Regions from separate parts of the Homo sapiens genome. Here region 2 is linked to region 1. A link means that fine-mapping ties the variant in region 1 to the expression of a gene that starts in the linked region. Tissue or cell type: anterior cingulate cortex. Region 1 holds a variant in brackets; the other region holds the start of a gene. All regions are shown on one strand. Distances are from middle to middle.

The links. PIP is the estimated chance that this variant, and not a neighbour inherited with it, causes the effect.
Region 2: ADGRD1 starts here. The variant in region 1 is fine-mapped to the expression of ADGRD1 in anterior cingulate cortex (GTEx, PIP 0.93).

The regions. Positions count from the first base shown.
Region 1 is chr12:131,023,984-131,032,086 of GRCh38, forward strand. The region is part of intron 13 of ADGRD1 (adhesion G protein-coupled receptor D1); the gene reads left to right. Among named protein-coding and RNA genes, the nearest start is that of ADGRD1-AS1, 34 kb to the left of the region's middle. RefSeq lists an enhancer at 4,351-4,852. The variant C/T (reference allele first, on the strand shown) is at 5,014.
Region 2 is chr12:130,949,668-130,957,770 of GRCh38, forward strand. It overlaps ADGRD1 (adhesion G protein-coupled receptor D1), which reads left to right and starts at 4,240. Exons shown (of 25, transcript NM_198827.5): 1 at 4,240-4,864; 2 at 4,957-4,993. The coding sequence starts at 4,799.

The sequences.
Region 1 (8,103 bases):
TGGTGTGTGGATTTAAGTCATTTCTGAAGATTCAACCTGATGAGCTGTCGACCACAGATGAAGACAGAACGGATCTGAGAGATGAATGATGTATCTGGGGTTAGCATCTGGATGATCCGAGTAATGGTTTTGGGAGAGGCAAAGCCTAGAATTAGCCACCCCTGAGGGACAGTGCTTTCCTGCCCCCGGCAGAGCGGCCTGGGGGGAGTTGTGCAGGAAGCAGGTGCAGGCAGCCCCGCTGGCCGGGTCACTGGGGTTCTCTGTGACGTCAGGGTCAGAGAGGCCCACATGGAGGGCTGGAGCCTGGTGCTGGTGCCTGATGGCTAGCTCCTCAGTGTGCTGGCTTTCCTGGCAGAGGGGAGGTCGAGCGTGGCTTCTAGTGGTCCCTAAAGCCACCAGGGTTTCCAGTGTGGCTGGTGCTGCAGCAGACCCAACCGAGCATCCTGTGTGTTTTGGAAACATTTCAGTCATGTTCCGGTCAGTGATAGATTGCGTATACCACAGTGGTCCCATCAGACTGTAAGACCAGATTTTCCCTGTACCTCATCTATGTTTTGATGTATTTCAATGCACAGATCCTTCCCATTGTGTTACAGCCGCTGGCAGCATTCAGTACAGTAGTGGGCACAGTTTGTAGCCTAGGAGCAATAGGCTACTCCATACAGCCAGGTGTGTGGTGGACTGCGTCGTCTAGCTTTGTGTAAGTCCCCTCTGTGATGTTCACAGCACGATGAAATCGCCTAATGATGCATTTTCACAATGTGTCCTTGTCATTAAGTGATGCAAGACTGTACTCCTTTTCCTTGAGGCACCATTCAGGCCTCCCAGACACGAGAAGGGAGCAATGGGAAGGGAGCAATGCAGCAGGCGTGTCTGTGTGAGAAGCTCGGGCAGGGCTCTCCGGGCCATTTTCTCACTGGTCCTGAGGCCTGCTGGCTGTGGCCCGAGGGCAGGGACGGCATGGTGGCCTGGGGGAACCGTCTCTGCAGGCACTTCTCACCTCCCGGCTCCAGTGAATTACAGGCCCTGTGGGGCTTGATGCCGTGGATGGAAGTTTTGTAGAAGGCCATGTTTGTGTCTTCTGTGAAGTATGAAAGGTGCCAGTTTGAAAACCAGAGAAAAAGAAAGCGTGGATTAAAATGCAGTCCCCGTTTTAATGGTTGGTTACTGCAGTTATTTTTAAAAAAAGAAAGTGTTTGAATAAGGAATCCTGTCTTGAAGAGAGGTGGAGAGGAATTTTTATCATACCGAAAGAGGATGGTAATTAAGGCTTGTCTTAGCCAAGCGTTCTCTAGGGTTTTGGGGTTTTTCTTTTGAAGGTTGCTTTTATATTTCTGAGGATGTTGCGGGGGCCTGCTCTTCTAAGTTAAAGTGATTTGTCTGATGGGAAGATTTCCCCTGGCGGCACTCTGTCACGGGCCGTGAGGAGGAGGTGAACTCAGAAGAGAGTCACACATTTGTCCCCCACATCGTTGTCAGGGAACCGTGACATGGAGGCTGCAGGAATTTTCTCCCAACATGGGCTGAGGTCTTGAGGCCCGAGGCTGAGATGCCTTCTTTTCTTTTTTTTTTTTTTTGATACAGAGTCTTGCTCTGTCATCCGGGCTGGAGTGCAATGGCACGATCTCGGCTCACTGCAACTTCTACCTCCTGGGTTCAAGCAATTCTCCTGCCTCAGCCTCCTGAGTAGCTGGGATTACGGGCATGCTCCCTGCTAATTTTTGTAATTTTAGTAGTGACAGGGTTTCACCGTGTTGTTCAGGCTGGTCTCGAACTCCTGGCCTCAAGTGATCCATCCACCTCCGTCTCCCAAAGTGCTGGGATTACAGGCGTGGGCCACTGTGCCTGGCCTGAGATACCTTCTTTTGCTGGCACAGAATGGGGTGCAAGCTCCCCAGGGTGTGAGGGACAGAGTTGCAGGCCCATCCTGGAGGCTCTGAGGGGGCACCTGGTAAAGCCTGGGGGTGAGGCTGGGCACTCCACATGCCCCAGGGCTGCACCACGGAAGCCCACGGAGGTCCTGGGACACGTGACTGTGTCACTGTGCCCGGTTCATGTCAATTGCGCCAGTGCCATCAGTGTGTCTGGGCCCTCAGGCTGCAGAGGGCAAGTGGGAATGGTCAGTGAGGTGTCATCTGTGCTTCTCCCCTGCTGGGGAGCCTGCACTCTACAGACAAACGGGGCAGCCGCGGGTGTGGCTGGGCCATGGACTGTGTCTCAGTGGACTGTGTCTCAGGGCACAGACCCTGCTTCCAGCCTTTCCCGGTGCCCTCCAGAGGGCTGGGTGGCCTCATTACTCCTGCCCTTCTGAGCTGGATGGAATCCCTTATTCTCCCAAAGGGCTCATTTTAATGTCTGCGGGGGGGCGGGAGTCCTTTGCCACTGACGTCAGCCCTTTGCCACTGACGTCAGCAATCGTCTGTCCGATCTCTCAGGGCATTGGAAGGGAGTGAGCTCCAGAGCACTTCCTGACCGCGTGGAGCCGAGCTCCGGAGCGCTTTCTGACCGTGTGGAGCTCCAGCGTCCATGTCACCCCGGAACAGAGGAGGTTCCCAGGCATAGAGTGGAATCCAGACTTTGGCCTTTTGAAGTTGGCTTGTGTTTCTGGGGCTTAATCTTCCAAGGGAACTGGTTCTGCTGTGTTGAGATGCATTGGTGTTGGGGCACTGTGGCTGTGGGGCTGGCCTGGGCATTGCAGGGAGGGTGTGGAGCAGCATCCCTGGCCTCTACCCACTTGATGCCAGCAGCCCCTCCCCAGGTTTGACAACTAGATACGTCTCTAGGCATCGCCAATATACCCGGGAGACTCCCAGGTGAGAGTCTCCCAGGGGATATTGCAGTGTTCACGGCTGGATGCTACTCGTCACTATTCCATATTCCATTATATGAATAGGCCACCGCTGACTCGTCCTTGTAACCATAATTTGGCTGTTTCCAGTTGCGGACTATTACACACAGTCACTTTCCTGTGCTTCTCAGATTCAGAACCATATTTGAGGGAGATGAAAGCAGGCGGGTGGCTTCTCTTGGAGGCAGGTACTTTCTCGTAGGGATTGTGGCACACAGCTGTTATTTCTCTAGGATTTGCTGTGAATGAGGGAAAAACGGTTGATTGTGAATGAAGCAAGGTTCATTTTCTTCCCATGGTCATTCCTTGGTGCACTGTAGATCCAGGATATTCCTACTCTGCAGGCTGTTTAAATAACACACACACACGCACACACATGCACACACACATAGCCAAACATCGTTTGAAATCCCATCCCTCAGAGATGACCAGTGTCAACATTGTGGTGACTTCTTTCGGGGCTTCTCTAGGTGTGTGTGTGTGTGCACACAATTTTATATAAATGGGGTTCTGCTATCCGTGCCGTTTCGCAGCTTCAGTTTTTAAATTTACCATGTCTATATTTCCGTGCCAGTAGCTCAGACTGTATCATCATTCTCACGGCTGCTTAATAGTCTACGTTTGTCATCCTGCTGGTGTGCGTCTGGCTTCGGGTTTGCATTCTCACAATGCTGTAATGAATCTTCTGTGTTCTTGCTGGGTTATCTCTGTAGGATGAATTCTCAGAGGTAGAATTGCTCTGTTAAATGTCTACACATTTTTTTCTCATTTTAAAATTTATTTTGGATGTTTAATCCAGATCTGTGTTTATTTACTGAGGGGAGCAGGTAGAATTGTAGAGTCACAGAGAAACAAATTAGAGCTAGGGGTTCAGGGTTACTCAGACCAAACTTCTCATCACCCTGCATCCCCCTGCCAGCCATGTTTTAAAAGCAAACGTGTTATTGGAGTATAACATGCCTGCAGAAAAGCACGTATATGTGTGTATGGTATGACAGTTTTTACAAAGCGAACATACCCAAGAAATCACCCCTCAGGTCAAGAAGCAGCACACGGCCAGCACCATGGAATGCCTTTTCCAGACGCCAGCAGAACAGAGCTGCCGGATGTTCTAGTGAGCGCGTTTCTGCTGGTGAACCTGACTGTGCCCTTCTTTGTGGGATCTGCCCAGGATGGCGTCGCTGGGTCGAGGGGCATGTTCAGCATGAACAGCTGGTGCCCGGTGCCTTCTCCAGAGCGGGCACTGGTTCACTCTCCCCTTGGCAGAGCGTGAGAAGCCCAGTGTCCAGCATTGGGTGTGGCCCGTCTTTTCCAGGTCCGCCATTCTGGTGGCTAATGTTGTCTCATTCTGTTTTTTATTTGCTTTTCTTGAATGATGTTGGTGACCTTTTTATGTTTATTGGATATCAATATCCTTTTAAAAAAATCTACTCAAGACTTCTGCTCATTTTTCTGTTGTGCTGTTTGCTTTTCTTTCTTACTGATTTTTTAAGGAGTTTTTGTGTATTTTGAGTATGAGTCATTTGTTTGATATACGTATTGCAAATATCTCTTACACGGGGTCTTCCCTTTTGACTTCGATGGTGTCTGCTGGTGGACAGCAGTTTTCAACGTCAGTGCAGTCCGGTTTATCAAGCTCTTCTGTATTCAGTGCTTTTATGTCTTGGTGGAGGAATCCTGCCTAACCCGAGGCCATGAAAGTAGTTTCCTGTGTTACCTGGAACATTTGTTGTTTTCACTTTCGTGTTTGGGCCTGTGGTCCTTCTCTGCTTGTTTCTGTGTCTGCAGTGCAGTAGGGGTTGAGACTGACCACTGTCCCCAGACGGATATGTAATTTACCCAGCTCCACGTGTGGGAAGACCAACCTCTCCCCTAGTGCTGTGGTGCCGCCTTTGCCGTCAGTCACGGGAGGGGCGACGTGGCTGTTTCTGGACTCTGCTCTGTCCGTCATCCCATTTGCATGCCGGTACGATTGCAACTGCCACGTCCTATGCCAAGGCCTGAGACCGGCTCGTGTAAACCCTCCAGCTTGTTATTCCAGGCGGCCTCGGCTATTTTTGGTGAGACGCATTTAAAAATTTGATGCGCGTCGTGAAACTGCCCTTCAGAAAGGTCGTAACCATTTATCCAGCCATGGGTGGGGCTCGGCAGTGCCGCCTCTCCCA[C/T]GCCATTGCAGACTCTGATGCACAGGAAGTCACACCTGGTTGTCATTCATAGCTGCGTAGCTTTGGTTATTGGTGAGGCTTCCTAAGTGAACTGGCCATCTGCATTTTTCTTTATGTTGTAACCACCTTCTTTCCTGATTTCTCCAGTGGAGTGTTTGTTTTGTTAGTGACTTCTGAGAGCTCTCGATGTAGTTCCAACGTTAACTCATTGCCTGCTGCTGTAATCTACCAGGCTTATTTTTATATTGACTATTATAGTCAGTGCGGATGAACACTTGAACCTGCAGTGCGAATCCGTTCCCCTGACCCCAGCCTCTGTGCCTCCCCCTCCTCTGCTCCTGCCTCCCTCTGTCAAGATCCTTGGGATCACACTGGATACATGTGGCTAATCCAGGATCACCTCCCACCTCCAGACGTTTAATTTACCCACATCAGAAAGGTCCCTTTTGCCATGTAAAGTGACATTCCCAGGCTCTGGGGTTAGGTTGTGGGACTCTCGTACGGTGACATTCCCAGGCTCTGGGATTAGGTTGTGGACCCCTCGTTCGGTGACATTCCCAGGCTCTGGGGTTAGGTTGTGGACCCCTCATGTGGTGACATTCCCAGGCTCTGGGGTTAGGTTGTGGACCCGTCGTAGGTGACATTCCCAGGCTCTGGGGTTAGGTTATGGACCCCTCGTATGGTGACATTCCCAGGCTCTGGGATTAGGTTGTGGACCCCTCGTTCGGTGACATTCCCAGGCTCTGGGGTTAGGTTGTGGACCCCTTGTTCGGTGACATTCCCAGGCTCTGGGGTTAGGTTGTGGACCCCTCTTAACGGTGACATTCCCAGGCTCTGGGATTAGGTTGCGGACCCCTCGTTCGGTGACATTCCCAGGCTCTGGGATTAGGTTGTGGACCCCTCGTTCGGTGACATTCCCAGGCTCTGGGGTTAGGTTGTGGACCCCTCGTTCAGTGACATTCCCAGGCTCTGGGGTTAGGTTGTGGACCCCTCTTATGGTAACATTCCCAGGCTCTGGGGTTAGGATGTGGACCCCTCTTATGGTGACATTTCCAGGCTCTGGGGTTAGGTTGTGGACCCGTCGTAGGTGACATTCCCAGGCTCTGGGGTTAGGTTGTGGACCCTTCATACGGTGACATTCCCAGGCTCTGGGGTTAGGTTGTGGACCCGTCGTATGGTGACATTCCCAGGCTCTGGGGTTAGGTTGTGGACCCGTCGTAGGTGACATTCCCAGGCTCTGGGGTTAGGTTGTGGACCCGTCGTAGGTGACATTCCCAGGCTCTGGGGTTAGGTTGTGGACCCCTCTGGTGGAGGGTGGGGATTGTGTTTTGTCAGCTGCAGAGGGTAAATTAAGAATCTGTGGGGAGCCCTTCCAGACTGTGCCGCTGAAATTGTTGGGGCAGTGGCTCTATCTCCGAGAATGCAGCTAGATCTCAGAATGCATCCCCAACGTTGCAGCGTGCGCAGGCCCTTCCTCCTGAGGGCACCCACCTTGGTGAATGGGATTTTCTGTATCCAGTTGTCTCTGCTCCAGTTGATGTGGCAGACACAGGGTCAGACAGAAGCTTGCTGGACATCGTCCCTCCCCTGAGGCCAAGGCCGGACGAGGGGTCTCTTCAGCTGCACATCGGGGCAGGTGAGGGGTGTCAGCCACGTCCCGGGGAATAGTAGCCTGCCCACCTCAGCAGAATGGCGAACTCGCTTTCCCGTGGCCTTTGGCATCTGTAGCGTGGATGCCATGGAGTGTGGCGCGTGACACCTCAATGTGGCACACTGAGACTGTAAAGAACAGAAGACACCAGTACTTTAACCCGCGGCTGAGGGCTCATCGCTTTGAATACGCCGGGGTGTGCAGAGCACAGGTCAGCTATTGTGTAGGAGAGACACTGAGCCGCATCTGCAGCCTGTTGTTCTGGGGTCGCCTTGGTTACAGCCACCTCTGTCACAATGTGCAGTGTGTCGGAGTCTCCTTCCAGAGGAGCACTCGCCCACAGCCAGGGCCCCCACCGAGGGCCGCTCTTTTCACCAGGGTTTCTGAACAGGCCACATGGGAGCCCGGAACGCAGGAAGGGCAACACCTCATCCCAACTCACCACACTGGGCCCCGGGGAGCCAGGGGCTGGGCGGTCTCAACTCTGAGCTCCACTGCCGGAAGCTCTGCTGCCTTGGGGGGTCCTGTCGAAGCTGCTCCCTGCCTCCCACCCTCCCTTCCTGCGCCATGTCATTTGTTGGGGGCTCTGACAGCGGAGCCCACTCACGTCTGGGGCAGCCTTGGGTACTGCGTGCTGCCCTGGTGCGGCTCAAACACTGGACGGTGGCCTTCATCCCTTTAGGCCTGGCTTAGCCTCTTGCAGGTCTGAGCCCAGGTGCAGGAGAATTCGGGGAGACTGTGGGGCATGACTGGAATGGGGTGAGTTCTGACCTGTTGCTGGGATGACCATTTACACAGCTTGAGACATAAATGCAGTCCCTCACCCATGCGGTTCTGTCGACGAGTCACCCATTGCTCACAGCTTCTCAGATTTGCGTTTGTCGGTGGTTTTCCCAAGGTTCCAGGATTAGCAAACACGGCCCCCCCACCCTTCCTTCAGGCCTGGTCTTAAACCAGGTCACCCACCTGCCCCTCCCCTTGAGGCTGCAGGAGTTCTGGGGCCCCTCTCCACCATCCCATTGTACTGGACCCCCAGGGCCACCTCCATGGATCTCTGTGTCTTTGATTCTTGTGCCCCCAGGGTTGGGCCTGGGTGTCAACACCTTGTCTCCCCAAAACCTCAGGAAGTGACTTGGCTTCTCCCCAGGGGCCAGCTCTGCATACCAAACATCCGGGTCACTTCTGCCAACACTCGGAAACCCTGAGAGGTGTCATTGCCTCGTCCCCGCACATGCCAGGTGCCTACCTGCCTTCCCTGTGGGAAGCTGGGGAGCCATTTGTGTCTGTTTGGTGAACTGCTGCCCCGGAAGGGAGGCCTTCAGATGAACCAGCCTGACTTCTCTCCTATCGCAGCCTCCACCCTTGGCTCTGGGGTTCCTGCCGCTGTGCCCCACAGATAGAGGGGGTGACATTGCTTTCCAAAATGCAGCCCTTAGCCC
Region 2 (8,103 bases), 74 kb before region 1:
AGCTTCTGACAGTCCCGTCTGAGCTCACGGGTCGGTGGAAGAAACGTCCTTCAAAAGGAAAGCCGACAGGAGCCGGAGGGGAGGCTGGGCTGGTAGAAACAACACACGCCCATGGTCCATGGCATGCTGCATCGGAGCTTTAGCCCATTCCATAGCTTCTTTCCAGAATGTCCCATCCCTTAACCACTCAGAGAAAGAATTCTTGAACTCCTTCGTGTGACTTTCACAGTGAATTCGCCCCCAGGCTTCTAACACCGTTCATTTCCATGTACGTTGTGTGCTGCACACCCCTCCTAGCACACTGCTTACGAACTGCTGCTCCGCCTTGCTTATCTACACAGGAGTAAACGTGATGGACACACAACTCTTGCTGCCTCTCACAAATATGCCGGCGTATGGGAGGGTCTGAGCTGGAGGGAGGCGCACCTTGGATTGGTGTGAATCAGGCATCAGGAACTCCTGTGCTCACAGCTTGTCCAGCTCTCCCTCAGCATTTGGGCCACTCCACAGAATTCTTTGTTCAGGCCCGATCTGTCCTCCTGGGACATCTGAGCTGCTCAGCACCAGGAAACATGCTCTGTTGTGCGCAGGGCATCAGCTTTGCAAATAATCCAGTTACGTTCCCATTGGTAGCTGGCGTCACACTTTATGTCCTTGTAAAATTTTGAGTGGAGCCTAATCACAATGTAAGGTCTCATTTTTAATGTTTAATTAGCATCCTCCCAGTAAAGTCTGAAATATTTTACCAAAGCGTAACAATGTTTTTCATTCTTTAAGTAAAGTACACATGCATGTGGCCCAAAACTATGACTTGAATGTTGAATGTGAGGCTGCCTGCCGGGCACTCCCCACCCAAGCATAGAAAAAAGAAAATCGGGCCGGGCGCGGTGGCTCACACCTGTAATCCCAGCACTTTGGGAGGCTGAGGTGGGCGGATCACGAGGTCAGGAGTTCGAGACCAGCCTGGCCAACATGGTGAAACTCCGCCTCTACTAAAAATACAAAAAAATTAGCCGGGTGTGGTGGCGGGTGCCTGTAATCCTGGCTACTCAGGAGGCTGAGGCAGGAGAATTGCTTGAACCTGGGAGCTCAGTGAGGTTGTGGTGGGCTGAGATCGTGCCACTGCCCTCTAGCCTGGGCAACAGAATGAGACTCCATCTCAAAATAAATAAATAAATACAATAAAATCTTGGGTTCCTTGAAGGGGAATTCCAGCCACCTAGCTAGCCCTGAGAAATACATGAGCAACTTGGGAAGCAAGAAGTTAATAGTGGCGAGAAACAATAGTCAAGAGAGTTAGAGTCAGGAATTCATTGCTTCCCTGTAGAAACTAAAGACAACATCGTAACAAACGACCCGGAGTTGTTTTTCAGAACCTGGACCCCCACCAAATGGATCTGTTGACTTACAGACCTCTGATATGGGGGAGCGGAGAGCTGAACTCCACCACCGTTCTTTGTTCTTTGTTTTTTGAGACAGAGTCTCACTCTGTTGCCCAGGCTGGAGTGCAGTGGCTCAATCTCAGCTCACTGCAACCTCCGCCTCCTGGGTTCAAGCGATTCTCTTGCCTCAGCCTCCCAAGTATCCTCCTGAGTACAGGTATGCACCACCACACCCGGCTAATTTTTGTATTTTTAGTAGAGACGGGGTTTCGCCATGTTGGCCAGGCTGGTCTCGAACCCCTGACCTCAGGTGATCCACCTGCCTCAGCCTCCCAAAGTGTTGGGATCCACCCCTCCGGGCCCACCACTGTTCTTTGTTCTAAATTTCTTCCTGAGGGGCCTGGAGGAGGTCATGCCCACAGGCCAGAGCTAACATTCTTTTTTGCTGATCTCAAATTTTTTGACAAAGCCTTGCCTTCTTAACCAATCACAAATCAGAAAACCTCTGAATCTACTACCTATATGACCTGTGGGCCCCCAGTTCAAGATGTCCTAGCTTTTTAGGTCAAACCAATGTGCAGCCTCCAGGTATTATTCATGTGGGACTTAGCCTGTAACCTCTGCCTCTCCACCTTGAAAAACCCTCCCCCATCAGCCATCGGGGAGTTCAGGTCTGAAGTGTGAGCTGCCAGGTTCTGCTCGCCTGGTGCCCTGCTCTAAATGCCTCACTTCCTCTCACTGCAATCCCGACGTCCATGTTTGGCTTTGCTGCGGGAGGGCAGAGCCAGGCTGGGTTTGGTGACAAACGCTGAGTGCTCACCAAGTACCAAGCCCTGTTCTCGGGGCTGGGGTGCAGAGCGAACAGGCAGAAAGAAGGTCTCTGCTCTCATGGGGCCTACGCCTCGGTGGGGAGAGACTGACAATAAATGAAATAAACGTCTAAGATATGAAGTACATTGGATCGTGGTTAGTGGGATCGAGAAAATACAGCAGGGGAGGGCTTTAGGGGGAGGGAGACCTGCTGTCAAGGTGATGTTTGGGTGCCGAACACCCCGACGTTTGGGTGATGGAATGAGATGCTCAGAGACATCAGAGTTGCTTGGTTCCAGGCCCATGGACCACTCAAGGCCCTGTCTCAAATCTCCAGGCTTCAGGACACGCTGCTTTACATGGAGGCGGGCTCTTCATCTGGGCCTCTGAACAAGGCCTGAGACAGGACGCAGGCAAATAGCATGAGGCACGAGACTGTAGTCCGGGATGGAGAGTCAGAGTGAGTCTGAGGATGAGTGCAGATGCCTGCAGGGCAAGCTCTGCTGAATTGCTTTGCTATCTAGTTTTTATTACAGTCATTGAATCGGGGTGTCTCCCATTATCTGATGACAATTTTATGATGAAAAGAAACCATGCTGGCTTTGTTCGGTCATGGAGATGGGAAAGGTCCGCATATTCAGCAATCTGTTGAATTCTTCCAGGTTAAAACTGGAGCTGAGAAAAACCTGCAGCTGCCTGTCCCTCCCTTCACCTCTTCCAGCGAGAGGCAGTGGGGGACTGGAGAGCTGATGAAATGGCAGAGATAAAGGTTGTAAATTAGTTTTCCCTGAAGCCGACCAGCCTGAGCAACAGGATAAAGGTCGTTATTACAGACAGCCCCCGGCCTTTGGAGTTCACAGTTTCTCCATTGCTAGGAGATGGAACTCTCTGGAACCCTTCTCCAGCTCCACAGAGAGGCTCAGGCTATCAGAGGATCTGAGCGGTTGTAGGCTGCAGGCACAAGTTAAAAATAATCACCTAACGTTTTGACAGCACTTTCTTTTTTTCTGTCCCACAGAGATTGGAAGTCATTTTCTTATCCTCTTTAGGAAGTATGTTGGATTCAGGATTCTTAATTCCCATTTAAAGTCAGGACAATTGAGATAACTGTATCAGCTAACATTTACTGGGTGTTATGTTATACTTGCTAATAATAATCATAGCTAACATTTACTGAGTGATAATTTTTCTTAATAGAAAATAGCAGCATTTACTGAGTGCCACATATTTTCCAAGTACTGCCTGAAGAGCCTTGGATCTGTCCTCTAATTTATTGTTACAGCCCTGAGGAGGAGGAACTATTAACCCCCATTTTGTGGATGAGGAATTCGAAAACTAAGAGAGATCAAGTAATTTGCCTAGGAGCACAGCTGGTGAATGTTGGAGAAAGTATGAAGCGGTAAATATTACTTAAATCACATAGCAAATATAGCTGTGACTGCAATTCTAGGGTGTGTGTCTCTGTGTGTCCACGTGTATTTGGAGTAGATCGGATAAACTTTGGTCTTGGGTAAACTGAGGCATGTCTGGCGAAGGGGCTGACTCTTTTCTATCCCATTGAGAACATCCTCCTGGTGCTGGGGTGGGGGTATATGTGGGATGGTGTAATTGCGCAGCGTACCTTGTAATTAATTCCGTAGCTTTCACTGACGTCCGAAAGGATTAGAGAGAAAAATGTGGTCAGCGCTTAATATGGAGGGCACAGTGGGTGTGCTGCTTTCTCTTTTCCATCCCTCTGTCAACTTCATTCTCTTTTGGGGGCAAACAAGACTCAGATCTAAACAGAGTTTATGGTTTGTTTTGCATTTTGTATTTATTAATATTTATGCCGACTTTGAAGGTGCTGACCAGAAGGCATCAGTAACACACACACGCACACGCACACACACCACACACCATGTCTGTTTGGTTTGATTCTGAGCCTGAGATCCTGGAAATATTTCAGCTGTTGTTAAGAGGCTGGAGTTAGGACCCAGGAAGGACACAGCAGTGGGGATATAAATAGAAAAGGAGAACAGAACAAAGTTTGAGGAGAGAGACTTACATCACTCACTCCCCCTCCACCCAGAGAGCAGGACGGAGGTGTGAACTTGAGCCAGACCAGAAGGAGCTCGAGAGCGGCCGCAGGACAAGCCCGAGGAGCAGGCGGGCGCTCCAGGGGAAAACCACGCACAAAACCTTCTTCAGAGAAAAGGGAAGCTCCAAACCTGACTGAGACAAACGGAGGCTCTTGAAATAAAAAGAAAATACCGCAGGACAAACAGCCTCCCGTCCCCGGGCGCAGGTCGCGGTCACAGTGGTGACCTGGGATTGCTTTCCCAGGACTGCGAGTCGGGTTTGGGTTTCTCCTCCCTGCATTCCACAGCTGCTCTGGTCATCGCAACGTGTTTATTGATCACTGAAGAATCTCAAGTTTTGAGACGAGGAAGAAACACCCATTAGGTCTCCAAGACAGCTGTGTTTCACAAACTTTAAGGAGACAGAAATTTTCTCCCCTGGAACCTGTGAAAATGTCCCTTTTCCAAGGAAGTGAAGGTTAAGAGGTCCCGTTCTCACAGACCCTCAGGAATTTCACTTGGCTCCGAGCTTTGACCTCCGAGAGAGCCATGGAAAAGCTGCTGCGGCTGTGCTGCTGGTACTCCTGGCTGCTGCTATTTTATTACAACTTTCAGGTAATGTCCCCAAGTGGCCAGGATGGCGACAGGCTTGGTTTCTCCGGAGGCTTTCCCTGAGTGTGTCTCACACTGTGGTCTTTTGTGCGCAGGTGCGTGGCGTCTACTCCAGATCGCAGGACCATCCAGGTAAGAGTGTTTCCTTCTCACTCTGAGCACCGCTCTCCCCCTGCCTAGTGCAGGTATCTCAGGAACAGCCCACTTGTTCATCTCTGAGGCATCAGCGAATGGCCCTTGTTGGGCTCCTGGTCCCCGACCTCACTGCCTCACCACACACTGTGACCCTGGGCAGCTCTGCTACCCCTCACCGGCTGAGCGGTGGATGGAGAAGTGGTTCTGGGCCCCTTGAGCTGGGTCATATGAAACATTGTGATTAAGGAAATATGATCTTCATTTGAATGCCTTCTGCCTCTTTCTTTCTCTCTTTCTCTCTTTCTTCCTTTCTTCCTTTTTTTCTTTTTGAGATGGAGTCTTGCTCTGTTGCCCAGGCTGGAGTGCAGTGGCCGCAACCTCTGCCTCCCGGGTTCAAGCAATTCTCCTGCCTCAGCCACCTGAGTAGCTGGGATCACAGGTGTGCACCACTACACCCAGCTTTTTTTTTTTTTGTATTTTTAGTAGAGACAGGGTTTCACTATGTTGGCCAGGCTGGTCTCGAACTCCTGATTTCAGGTGATCCGCCCGCCTTGGCCTCCCAGAGTGCTGGGATTACAGATGTGAGCCACCACACCCATCTCATGTCTTCAGGGCAGATTCACTGGTGGGGAGTTGGAGCTCTGGCCCATAGCAGGGTCTCGGGACCTCCAGCCTCAGAGTGCTGACCAGCTTAGCCTGGAGCAGCCGATGAGTGGGACTCGGGATAGAGGGCCACCCTTGCTCCAGCCCCAGAGCCACATTCCATTGGCCATTGTGACACCCAACCAGGAAGCATCAGGACGGGGCTTCTCTCGGGAAGACAGGGAGGCACACACCCTTCGCTGTTAAGAGTGTGGGCACACGTTCTGGTCAGCCAGGGGCAGGGATGGGAAGACGAGGCTTTCTGGGAGCAGCAGGCAGTCACTGGGCTGTTGCTCCCTGCTGGAAGTTGCAGGAGGTGGGGAGGAGACCCTGCTAGTGCCTGAACCCCTGCTGGGAAGCCTGTTGTGAGCACAGCCTCTGCCCCCGCCCCACCAGAGCTTGGCTGGGCACCCCCCCGAGCGCTATTGTATGGCCCTGCCTGTCTCTGATGGGAAATCAGCCTTTTTAAAAAAATTATTTTTGTTTTTATTTTTTGAGACAAAGTCTCACTCTGTCACCCAGGCTGGAGTTGAGTGGTGAGATCTCAGTCTCGGCTCTCTGCTACCTCTGCCTCCCGGGTTCAAGCGATTCTTGTGCCTCAGCCTTCCAAGCAGCTGGGATTACAGGCCCATGCCACCACGCCTGGCTAATTTTTGTATTTTTAGTAGACACAAGGTTTTGCCATGTTGGCCAGGCTGGTCTCGATCTCCTGACCTCGGGTGATCCAACCACCTCGGCCTCCCAAAGTGTTGGGATTACAGATGTGAGCCACTGGGCCTGGCTGGGAACCAGCCTTTAATGATCAACCACAAATGGACTCAGGCCAGCACTGTGGGCAGATCCCAGGGCGATACCCAGGCCTCCAGGGAGAGCCCCTTTCCTGGATGGAGCACCAGGAGCCTGCTGGGGTCTAGGGCCAGGGGCTGTGCCCTCAGCCTCTGTCTCCTTTCCGGCTGCCCGGCAGCCCCATGCCAGGATGTTCCAGGCATCGTCGCCTCGCCACCACCTCCATTCACCAACTCGGGGGTGGGGACGCTGCCACTTCTGTTTCGTCCACATGCATAGGGAGCTCCTTTTAAAAAGGTGTGGAAGCTGTGAGTTTCCACACATTCCCCTCTCCTCAGCCAAATCGCTGAATGAAACAAGGGCTCCTGTGGCTTGGGAACGAATAAACATGCCCAGCGCTGCGTTAAAGAGAGGACGTGTCCACCTTGGACACCTTGCTTCTCGTGAATGCAGGCCTCATGGCTTGGGCTGGGCTCCAGTAGGGGAGAGGACTGAGAGGAGGAGAGGGGTAGCCCCTCGAACTGCAGGGCGGTCAGGCAGAGCTGTGCACCCGGCTCCTGCAGCAGGCAGGTGGCCCCCGAGGCCCCAGCATGGCCCTCACTGCTGCTCAGTGTTGGAGAAAAGCTGTGCGGGTTCTCCCCGGACTTCTGCTTATGATACAGAGCCCACACGCATTCTCACACATGCACATGTGTCCACATGCCCCCCCATGCTACATGTCTACATGTGTCAACATATGCCCACATGCACCAACACAAATCACACACATCCACACATGGTGACACATATGCATACACACACACACCAGATGTCTACATGTGTCAACATATGGCCACATGTGCCAACACACATCACATGTCCACACACCACTCACATCCATACACATCAGACATGTTGACACACATGCATACACATGCAAAAGCATCCACACATATGCACACACCTGCATGCATCAACATGTGTCCACATGCATCCACACATGTGTCCACACAATTCACATGTGTAGACACACATGCACATATATACACATCCATGCACACACCCACACCCACATGTGCCAACACATGTCTACGTGCATCAACATACATGTATTTACACATGTTCACACATGTCCACACATATCCACGTGTCTACACACATGACCACACAGTCACAGACTACACACATCCACATGCATCCACACACATCCATACATTTCTACACACATGCATACACGTACACACATTCACAAAAGTCCACGTGTCTACACACATCTGCACATGCTCGCACATCTCTACACACATGCACATACATACACACATGCTCACACACGTACACCCCACACACGTCCACACACACTCATATGCATGCACGTGTCCACACACATCTTCACATACTCACATGTGTGCACACACATGCACACACACCCTCACACATTCACACACATCCCACATCCACACACATGTACACCTATTTACACAGCTCACATATCCACACACGTACACATATGTACACACACATGCACATGTGCACTTGCATTTTTGTATCTAAACTTGAAGGAGCAGTTTGAACTCAGTCTTTGTTCCATATAGAAGCTTTGTTCTTCCAAGTCTGGATTTAGGGTAGAAATCAACATTTCCTGATCAAGGCACTGTCTTAGAGAAACGACGGCCATGCTGATGACAGTAGAAAGGGACGGA